Linked DNA regions of Homo sapiens. The protein of the gene in region 1 interacts with the protein of each later gene in a pairwise test. Each region holds a gene or a part of one and is shown in the gene's direction. Other genes may lie near its edges.

Region 1 (7,035 bases):
TTTCCAGGCCGGGCGTGGTGGCTCACACCTGTAATCCCAGCACTTTGGGAGGCTGAGGCAGGCGGATCACTTGAGGTCAGGCGTTTGAGACCAGCTTGGCCAACATGGTGAAACCAAAAATAAAAAAATTAGCTGGGTGTAGTGGCGCACGCCTGTAATCCTAGCTACTCGGGAGGCTGAGGCAGGGGAATTGCTTGAACCCAGGAGGTAGAGATTGCAGTGAGTAGAGATTGCACTGCTGCACTCCAGCCTGGGTGACAGAGCAAGACTCTGTCACCGAAAAAAAAAAATACCCTTTTCCAGGTGGGCAAAACTGAGGCCTAAAGGTCCAAGGTCACTTGGCATAGATGGGATACCCAGGGGCTCTGCATGCAGATGTGTGTGTGGTGGCTTGGGATGGAGGAATTCTCAGCTGACTGGGTCTCCCCACCACCTGCACCCTCCAGGACCCCCCAGACACCCAGTTCTATGTAGGATCTTCTCTGCCACAGGCTGGACCCTGGAGAGTTTCTGCACCCCCTTCAGGACCCCCACAGTTCCCCGCTGTGGTCCCTGGACCATCGCTGGAGGTGGCCCGAGCTCACATGCTGGCTTTGGGGCCACAGCAGCTGCTGGCCCAGGATGAGGAGGGGGACACGTGAGTATAAGGGATAGGGTTGTCTGCAGACTCTTGGCTTGGTGGGGGCTGTTCTCACGGCTGTCCCCCACCTGTCCTCAGGCTCCTTCACCTGTTTGCGGCTCGGGGGCTGCGCTGGGCGGCATATGCTGCGGCTGAGGTGCTCCAGGTGTACCGGCGTCTTGACATTCGTGAGCATAAGGGCAAGGTGAGGCTTGGGGCCTGAACTCTCCTGGGTTCAGGGGAGGAAGGAGCCTGGGGCCTGGACCCCTGGATCCTAGAGAAGAGGGGAATGGGGGGTGAGCTCCTGGGGCTGAGGGGGGATGGGGCTGGGAGCCTGGTTTTCTGACGGGAGGGAACCAGGAGCCCAACCTGACTTCTCCTGTGGCCTGCAGACCCCTCTCCTGGTGGCGGCTGCTGCCAACCAGCCCCTGATTGTGGAGGATCTGTTGAACCTGGGAGCAGAGCCCAATGCCGCTGACCATCAGGGACGTTCGGTCTTGCACGTGGCCGCTACCTACGGGCTCCCAGGAGTTCTCTTGGTATGGCCAGCTGGCAGGCAGGGGTTTGTCTGGGGGGTAGACTGGTTGCCCAGATTTTGGCTTCCAGGGCCAGGAGGCCAGGGGATACCCTTACCCAGCAGTCTGCCTTCTCTTCCTCCCAGGCTGTGCTTAACTCTGGGGTCCAGGTTGACCTGGAAGCCAGAGACTTCGAGGGTAAGTTGGGTGTGGGCAGGGCTGGTGTGGTTGGTGTGGCTGGGCGAGGTGGGTGCAGATGCGGGTCCCTCACTGTCTCCATTCTGCAGGCCTCACCCCGCTCCACACGGCCATCCTGGCCCTTAACGTTGCTATGCGCCCTTCCGACCTCTGTCCCCGGGTGCTGAGCACACAGGCCCGAGACAGGCTGGATTGTGTCCACATGTTGCTGCAAATGGGTGCTAATCACACCAGCCAGGTGAGCGGGGATGTGGGCGGTCAGACCCTGGGAGATTGTGTGGAATGGGGCCACTTGGATGTCCGGGAGCTCCAGGCAAATGCTGACTTTGCCTCTTCCTTGCTGCGTGCCCTTGAACATGTTACTTCACTTCTCTGTGCCTTAGGGGTTTTTTGTTTGTTTCTTTGTTTGTTTTGAGATGGAGTTTTGCTCTTGTTGCCCTGGCTGGAGTGCAATGGTGTGATCTTGGCTCACCGCAACCTCTGCATCCCGGGTTCAAGTGATTCTCCTGCCTCAGCCTCCTGAGTAGCTGGGATTACAGGCATGAGTCACCACGCCTGGCTAATTTTTTTGTATTTTTAGTAGAGACAGGCTTTCTCCACATTGGTCTTGCTGGTCTCGAACTCCCGACCTCAGGTGATCCACCTGCCTTGGCCTCCCAAAGTGCTGTGATTACAGGCGTGAGCCACCGCGCCCAGCAGGGTTTTTTTGTTTGTTTGTTTTTTTGTTTTTGAGACAGGGTCTCACTCTGTCGCCCAGGCTAGAGTGCAGTGGTGCAATCTCATCTCATGGCAAACTCTGCCTCCCAGGTTCAAGTGATTCTCCTGTCTTAGCCTCCTGAGTAGCTGGGACTATAGGCGCACGCCACCATGCCTGGCTATTTTTTTTTTTTTTTTTTTGTATTTTAGTAGAAGTGGGCTTTCATTGTGTTGGCCAGGCTGGTCTCAAACTCCTGACCTCAAATGATCCTCCCACCTTGGCCTCCCAAAGTGCTGCGATTACAGGCGTGAGCCACTGTGCCTGGCCCCTAGTTGTTAACTGGGAATAATATTACTGACCTTAGGGTATGTTATCAAGCACTTACTATTCATTCATCAAGCACTGAGTTTCATAGATTAGCTTATTGAAACCTCACAAACACCCTTTGACATGTGTACTCTATTTTCTCTATTTTACTGAAAAGGAAACAGGCATGGGAAATCAAAAATCTTTTTTTTTTTCTTTTTGAGATGGAGTTTTGCTCTTGTTGCCCAGGCTGGAGTGCAATGGTGTGATCTCGGCTCACCACAACCTCCGCCTCCTGGGTTCAAGCGATTCTCCTGCCTCAGCCTCCCGAGTAACTGGGATTACAGGTTCCCACCACCACGTCCAGCTAATTTTGTATTTTTAGTAGAGACAGGGTTTCTCCATGTTGGTCAGGCTGGTCTCGAACTCCCGACCTCAGGTGATCTTCCTGCCTCGGCTTCCCAAAATGCTGGGATTGCAAGCGTGAGCCACTGCACCTGGCCTCAAAAATCTCTTTGAGACAGGGTCTCACTCTGTCACTCAGGCTGGAGTGCAGTGGCATGATCACAGCTTATTGCAGCCTTGACCTTGTGCACTTAAGTGATCCTCCCACCTCAGCCTCCCAAGTAGCTGTGATCACAGGCATGCACCACCATGCGTGGCAACTTTTTTGTAAGGTGGGGTCTAACTATGTTGGCCAGGTTGGTCTCAAACTCCTGAGCTCAAGCAATCCTTCCACCTCTGCCTCTGAAAGTGCTGGGATTACAGTTGTGAGCCACTGCACCCAGCCTGAAAAATCTTATAGCTTGTGACTGTCAGAGAGAGAATTAGAACCCAGGTAGTCTGACTTTAGAACCTAGCTTTTAATTATGTTCTGTTCCTTTCCTGTGACAGTAGCTCCTTCATAGGCTGGCTGAGAGAATTAAACATCCACAAAAAATGTTTATTTATTTATTGAGATGGAATCTCACTCTGTCACCCAGGCTGGAGTGCAGTGGCATGATCTCGGCTTACTGCAACCTCTGCCTCCCGGGTTCAAGCCATGCTCCTGCCTCAGCCTCCTGAGTAACTGGGACTACAGGCATGCACCACCACGCTTGGCTAATTTTTTTGTATTTTTAATGGAGACGGGGTTTCCCTATGTTGGCCAGGCTGTTCTCTCAAACTCCTGACCTCAGGTGAGCCGCCCGCCTTGGCCTCCCAAAGTGCTGGGATTACAGGCATAAGCCACTGCGCCCAGCCGAAAAATGTTTTTTTAGTTAAAGAATGTTGAACACCAATAAAATATAGAAAATAGTGGAATGAACTCCATATGTCCAACATCAATAACCAGCCACTCATGGCCAGTCCTGCCCCATCCACTCTCTCACTTTCAAGTGATTTTTTTTTTTTTTTTGAGATGGCTCTCGCTCTGTCACCCAGGCTGGAGTGCAGTGGTGCGATCTCGGCTCACTGTAAGCTCCGCCTCCCGGGTTCACACCATTCTCCTGCCTCAGCCTCCTGAGTAGCTGGGACTATAGGCACCCGCCACCACGCCCGGCTAAATTTTTGCATTTTTAGTAGAGACGCAGTTTCACCGTGTTAGCCAGGATGGTCTCGATCTCCTGACCTCGTGATCCACCCGCCTCGGCCTCCCAAAGTGCTGGGATTACAGGCGTGAGCCACTGTGCGTGGCCTCTCACTTTCATGTGATTTTTAAGCAAATTCCAACATGTATTTTTTTCAAAAATATTTGTGTATCTTTAAAGAATAATGGTGTTTAGCAGAATTAGCTAGATGGTGGGGATGGACTGTAAGAAGGACGGGCATGACTGAGTAGAGACAAGATAAGGCATTATTAGCGGGGTTAGGAAATGAATGATGGTAATCTAGGCTCTTAATGGTTGCAAAGTAGAGCTAAGTGATCATTTGGGCAATACAGAGAAGGTGAAATTGATACTTTGGTAATTCATTCGTTTCTTCACTCAGAATTTTGGACACATATGATGTAGCTACCAGTGTGCTAGTGATGGGGCATAAAGTTGCTTTTTGTTTGTTTGTTTTTTAGAGACAGAGTCTGGCTTTGTCACCCAGGCTGGAGTGCTGTGGTGCGATCACGAATCACTGCAGCCTCGACTTCCTGACCTCAAACATTCCTTCCACCTCAGCCTCCTAAGTAGCTGGGACTACAGGCATGAGCCACCTCACCCGGCTAATTGTTTTATATTTTTTGTAGAGAGGGGGGGTCTCACTATGTTGCCCAGGCTGGTCTCGAACTCCTGGGCCCAAGTGATCCCCCAGCCTTGGCCTCCCAAGTGCTGGGATTACAGGCGTGAGCTGCTGTGCCCAGCTACCTATAATGTTTTAATAAGAAAAGACCACTTTCTTGTACTTTTAGACATTAAAATTTAATGGAAAAGAGAGGAGATGATAAGTAAACAAAGAACTGAACATAATTACAAATTGGGATGAGAGCTGCCTTGGGAATGTAGAAGGAGCTCTTAGACAATAAAAAGATTGGCTTTATATTGGATGCGGGGCTCACAATGAAGGTCATTCTGAGGAAATTACATTTAAGTTGAGCAAGAAATGATGAAGAGGAAGAATTAACTGTGTGGTAGGGTTCTGGGAGAACTCAGAAATCAGGGAGTATTTCTCTGAAAAAAGGACAAATAATTTTTTTTTTTTTTTTGAGATGGAGTCTCGCTCTGTCGCCCAGGTTGGAGTGCAGTGGCACAGTCTTGGTTCACTGCAACCTCCCAGGTTCAAGTGATTCTCCTGCCTCAGCCTCCCGAGTAGCTGGGACTATAGGCATGTGCTATCACACCCCACTAATTTTTGTATTTTTAGTAATAATAATAAGTTTTTTAAAAATAAGAAAGATGGCTGGGTGCGGTGGCTCATGCCTGTAATCCAAGCACTTTGGGAGGCTCAGGTGGGCGGACTGCTCGAGCTCAGGAATTCGAGACCAACCTGGGCAACATAGGGAGACCCCATCTCTAAAAAAAATACAAAAATTAGCTGGGCTTGATGGCACATGCCTGTGGTCCCAGGTACTCAGGAGGCTGAGGTGGGAGGATCACCTGAACCTGGGGAGGTCAAGGCTGCAGTGAGCCATGATTTTGCCACCACACTCCAGCCTGGGTGACAGAGCAAGACCCTGTCTCTCAACAACAACAACAACAATAATAAAAGATAAGAACTCTTTCCCTGTAATCCCAGTGCTTGGGGAGGCTAAGGTGGGAGGATCACTCGAGCCCAGTAGGTTGAGGCTACAGTGAGCCTTGGTCACACCACTGCACTCCAGCCTGGGCAACAGAGCGAGACCCTGTCTCAAAAAACAAACAAAAAACATAGCTTTTTTTTTTTGAGACGGAGTCTCACTCTGTTGCCCAGGCTGGATTGCAATGGTGTGATTTTGGCTCACTGCAACCTCTGCCTCCCGGGTTCAAGCTATTCCTGTGTCTCAGCCTCCCAAGTAGCTGGGATTATAGGCATGTGCCACCACGCCTGGCTAATTTTTGTATTTTTAGTAGAGACGGTTTCACCATGTTGGCCAGGCTGGTCTCGAACTCTTGACCTCAAGTGATCCGCCCTCCTTGGCCTCCCAAAGTGCTGGGATTACAGGCATGAGCCCCTGTGCCCTTCGAAAAAAAAGAACTTTTTAAACCTCAGTATCATTGCTCTGTCTTTAAAAAATTAAAGATTTTCTTGTAATACCAAATATCCTGGCTGTATTCAAATTTCCTTTTGGCTGTAAAATGATAATTTTTTTCATTAAAAAAAATCAAGATCCAAATAAGCACACATATTATGATGTTACGTCTTTTCAAATCACTCTTAATCTAGAGCTTTGGTTTTGTCTTCATCATTTTTTGGACGAGCAAACTAGGTGGTTTTGCCCTGTTATCAGCACATAAAATGTTTAACATTCATTATCGTTACAAACTCCTTAAAGACACATAAAAAGGTTTCATTTTAGAAAATGTCTTTTATTTTCCCCCAAATATGATGGGAACAGCTCAATATTGTGGTGCAGTATTGCAATATTAGCTAGTCCACTGATTAATGCTGCCAACTCCTGTGCTTGTAGATAAAGTACAGTCTGTGTGGGTCGGGATGCAATTTAATGTGTTGAATGGAGGGCAGGTAGCCAAGGCAGTTGCTTTGAAGAACTGGAAAAGGAGTCTCTTTCTCAGACACTGGTGGGAAAATTGTCATGAGAAATGTACAGTTCTGGAAGGTGTATGGTGTGAATGGTACACCCTGAGACGTGGTGTTGTGCGGTGCACAAGACATACAACTGAATAAGGCACTCTTGGTGGGGCTCGCAGAAGAGGGCCAGCATCTTATTTATTTATTTATTAATTTTGAGATAGAGTGTCACTCTGTCACCCATGCTGGAGTGCAGTGGTGTGGTCATGGCCCACTGCAGCCGTGAACTCCTAGGCTCAAATGAACCTCCTGCCTCAGCCTCCCAAGCAGCTGGGACTACAGGTGCGCACCACCACGCCTGGCTAATTTTTCTATTTTTTGTAGAGATGAGGTCTTGCTGTGTTGTCCAGGCTGGTCTGCAGCTCCTGGCCTCAAGTGATCCTCCTTCTTCAGCTTCCCAAAGTGCTAGGATTACAGGCGTGAACCACCGCACTCCGCCAAGGGTCAGGGTCTTTAAAGACTCCTGGATTCTGTGGGAGGGCACCTAGGTGTGAGGCTGGCCCTGA
Region 2 (4,078 bases), on another chromosome or scaffold:
CTGCTGGCTAGAATCCTGTGGCTTCCCTGGAGCCTCAAATTCTTGTCTAACCACATTTCTAGTCATGGTTCCTGCAGGAGACATCCACTCAAACCACCTGTTACTGAGGCACCAAGCAACCCTAGAGGCAGTTGGCCTCTGGCCCTAGCAGGAGCAGGATCTCAGGCCATCCCACCAGGCAGCCAGCCTCAGCCCCTCACCGCAGCCTTGCAGAGTGGGCTCTGCAGAGAAGCCGATTTGTGGACAGTGCCACCCTCCATCCTGAGTCACATGGCTCATGTGGTTGCAGCCATTTTTGAGCCAGGAGGGGGCCCCTTCTAGGTGCAGCTGACCTGGGAATGCTAGCCAGAGCGGCCAGAGGAGAGGAGTTGGGGGAAGGAGAGAGGTATCTCTTGCTGGCCGCGGGATCTCATCTCCTTTTGTCTTGTTTAGGTTTCTCCTCTGCCTCCTACTTAAAGGTCCATGTTAAAACCCACCACGGTGTTCCCCTTCCCCAGGTCTCCAGGCACCAGGAGCCCATCCTGAATGGGGGAGCAGCGTTCCACTGCGCCAGGACCTATGGCAACAAAGGCAAGCGACCCCTTGCTCTGCACTTTGCTTCTCTGCGCAGACTGTGTTGTGGGGGCGCTGGGCTGGGCGTGGGGAGGCGGGAAGGCTGCCGGCTTTCTGGCTGCCTTGAGGAGACTCAGAGATCTGAGTGGCAGTGGCCTCCAGGACAAAAGTCACAGTGGGTATCTCACTCCAGGGCAGTGAGTGAGGCTTTAGGGCACTGCCGAGATCCAGCCTCCGCCTCCTCTTCCCCAGCCCTCCTCCTTTCCTCCTGGCCAGCCCCCACTGTCTGGAGCCCTGCAGGGATGCCCCGGGCCCTGGGCAGAAGAAGAGCCCTGCATGATGAGTCACTATGGGCCTGTCACTGCCTGCTGCCCTTTAGGATGGTGTGGAGCTGCGGCTGAATGCTTTCTCCTCTTTTGACCCAGTGGGCCGGTGGGAGCCAATGTCTGGCTTCTCTCACAGTAGGAGTGGTTGGTTACTGTGAGTGGCCCTTTCTGGAGAGCCTCTGGCTATGGTTGTGAGATGCATGGCAATAATGAGCTATCTGACTCCTCTGACTTGGGAGTTGGTTTGCAGAAAGCTCCCCAGGCCCACCTTCACTTGTTGATTCAGGTTGTTTTGTGGTATGTCACGTTGTCGTTGCCTTGGGGATGAGGCCAGGGGCTTGGCAGATGGTAGAAACAGCAGAGATGGCATGCTCCATGCTCCCATCACAGACCTCCCTTCCCGGCATGGCTCTCTGGACCCAGGCAGGAAGCTGCTGATTGGTGGAGGACTCCAGTGTGGGCCGGGCAAGGCAGAGCAGCCAGGGTTGTCTCTTGGCCCAGCTTGTCTGGGGCCTAGGGTGGGGACACCCAGCCGACTGAGTAGTACAGAGTTGCTTTCAATCTCTGTGCTTGGGCTGCTTGGCCCTGAAAAGGTTTTGGCAGAAGGAAGGCGGTAAGGACAGGGCTATGTTTGCAGCATTAGGAAAAGGATTGGCTTCTGTCTGAGCCATTGATGGGGTCTACCCAGGTTGAGGACCTAATGGCTCTGGTTCTGCCTGTCTTGCTAGGGTGCAGCTAGTCTGGTGCAGGAGGCGAGGCTACTATTACACTGGCTCGGCATCATCAGAATACCAATTTTACCCTCAGAGGCACCCAAAAGAGCGCCTAGGAGTTGGGGGTCTTTGAGTTGTTCTGGGCAGCTGTAGCAGAGTTGCCCTCTCTGTATCCCTTCCTTGAAGCAGGCTGAGATGACGGTGAGCAGTACATGTGCAGCTGCATGAAGAGTCCACAGCAAGGGAGGCTGGCAGCCCTAGGGCCCTGCCGTTTCACCCCTGTAGGCACTCCAGGCTCCCAGACTGACCAGCTGACCCTCCGTGGGTTCTGCCAGGGCAGTGGCTGGCCAATGGCTGCCCTCCACAGGTCTGTGAGCTGGCCCCTCATGACCCCTCCAGGAGGGGGCATCTCCAGAGCCTGGCCTCATCGCTCTCCTATATTTTGTTTTTTCGTAGAAGGCCAGAAATGCTCACATCAGGATCCGATTGAGAGCTCTGACTCCTATGGTGACCTCTCAGATGCCAGCGACCTGAAGACGCCAGAGAAGCAGAGTGCCAATGGCTCTTTCTCCTGCGACATGGCAGTCCCCAAAAACAAAATGGAGTCTGATGGGGAGAAGAAGTACCCATGCCCTGAATGTGGGAGCTTCTTCCGCTCTAAGTCCTACTTGAACAAACACATCCAGAAGGTGCATGTCCGGGCTCTCGGGGGCCCCCTGGGGGACCTGGGCCCTGCCCTTGGCTCACCTTTCTCTCCTCAGCAGAACATGTCTCTCCTCGAGTCCTTTGGGTTTCAGATTGTTCAGTCGGCATTTGCGTCATCTTTAGTAGATCCTGAGGTTGACCAGCAGCCCATGGGGCCTGAAGGGAAATGAGGCAGCTGCTGTGTCCCCACGGAAACAACCATCTGGGGACTGCTGGGAAATGCTGTGAATGCGGAGGGAAGTGATGTTTGGGTTCTGTAGCTGAGAGATTTTTATTCATTTTTAACTGCCCCCCAACCCCACTCCAACTCCTTCTCCACCACCCATTCTCCCAATGGTCTTTAGAAATAGATTTTCATCTGATATTCTGCAGAAATATCAATGAGACTTGGTATGGGACAGGGGCAGAAAACACTACATAGGCCTCCAAGGCAAAACCAGTCCCAGTTTCTTTAATGGGAAGAAGCTGGAATTCCTGGTGCTCAATTCTTAGTGACCCCAATCCTATACCCAAATCTATGATATTCTGGGACCTCAGTGATTTTGGTCCCCTCCCACTTCTCTAGTTCGTCATCCTCCCTTCCCATATCCTTCAAAAGAACCACACTAGGGTCTCCACCTACTTATACAATGCGGATGCCCAACTGTTTTTAAGGAAGCCAGAAGCATCCCATGGACCATGGGGTGAGTGTCCTCCAAGAGCCCCCTGAGCTCAGCCCTCTGCCTGGAGGGCTCCAGACCTTTCTGAGCCCTGCTTGGAGGCGAGCATTTTCACTGCTAGGACAAGCTCAGCTGTTGAGGACACCCCCACCCCAAATTTCAGTTCTTACGTGATTTTAACCATTCAACATGCTGTTGGGTTTTAATTCTCTAATTATTATTATTATTGTTATTATTTTTTAGGACCAGTTGTAGTGAATTGCTACTGAAAGCTATCCCAGGTGATACAGAGCTCTTTGTAAACCGCAGTCACACATTAGGGTTAGTATTAAACTTTGTTTAGATGTACCATAATTAACTTGGCTAGTTGATTGTTTGAAGTCTATGGAAGAAATAGTTTTATGCAAAATTTTAAAAAATGCCAGTCTGGTCAGGGAAGTAGGGGGTTTCAATGCTGTTGGGAACCAGGAAGGTGGGACAGCCGGCAGGTAGGGACATTGTGTACCTCAGTTGTGTCACATGTGAGCAAGCCCAGGTTGACCTTGTGATGTGAATTGATCTGATCAGACTGTATTAAAAATGTTAGTACATTACTCTATCTGCTCCCTTGAGTCCAGTTTTTCAGCTGTGGGGGTCTTTGGGACCCAGAGGTGGGCAGTCCATACCCCAGCACCTGGGGTGGGAGTGGGATCCCAGGAGACCCCTTTTCCACTTCATTGCACCAGTTCCACTGGGATTGACAGGTAGATGGTCCCACTGAAGACTTAGAATGCCAGAATTCACCCATGTGTTCAACAAATATCCACTGCTTGTCTTCACTGCTTGTGTGCCAGGCATGGTTTCATGCTCTTGAGATATGGTGGTGAACAAGACACCACTGTGAGGCTTAATGGGATAGACAGACAACTTAAATATGAGTTCAGATAATGAGAAATACAAGGAGAAGAACTGGGCAAGGTGAGGGGACAGTGACAGCAGGAGGGTGAGTAGGGTGGACCAGGGAGGTGTGAAGTGGGGTTGGGGCTCTGGGAGGGAAGGCTTATAGAGGGGATCTGACACAGCCTACCCAGCTAGCACCTGAGGAGGGATGTGGGCAGGGACTCCTCATGGCCAAGGGGCTCTA

The links. The genes of interacting proteins can lie anywhere in the genome.
Region 2: the proteins of NFKBID (region 1) and PATZ1 interact in binary tests that used the Homo sapiens proteins (3 or more experiments, as listed by UniProt).

The regions. Positions count from the first base shown.
Region 1 is NC_000019.10:35,890,515-35,897,549, reverse strand, and holds part of NFKBID (NF-kappa-B inhibitor delta), read left to right. Parts: intron 1-446; coding exon of another isoform or gene 447-491; coding exon 492-637; intron 638-718; coding exon 719-824; intron 825-1,011; coding exon 1,012-1,158; intron 1,159-1,280; coding exon 1,281-1,332; intron 1,333-1,421; coding exon 1,422-1,570; intron 1,571-4,382; coding exon of another isoform or gene 4,383-4,490; exon of another isoform or gene 4,491-4,847; intron 4,848-7,035. UniProt on the Homo sapiens protein: Regulates the expression of IL-2, IL-6, and other cytokines through regulation on NF-kappa-B activity. Functions in the regulation of inflammatory responses.
Region 2 is NC_000022.11:31,325,279-31,329,356, reverse strand, and holds the end of PATZ1 (POZ-, AT hook-, and zinc finger-containing protein 1 isoform long C), read left to right. Parts: intron 1-432; coding exon 433-570; intron 571-2,047; coding exon 2,048-2,466; 3' UTR 2,467-3,553; downstream 3,554-4,078. UniProt on the Homo sapiens protein: Transcriptional regulator that plays a role in many biological processes such as embryogenesis, senescence, T-cell development or neurogenesis. Interacts with the TP53 protein to control genes that are important in proliferation and in the DNA-damage response.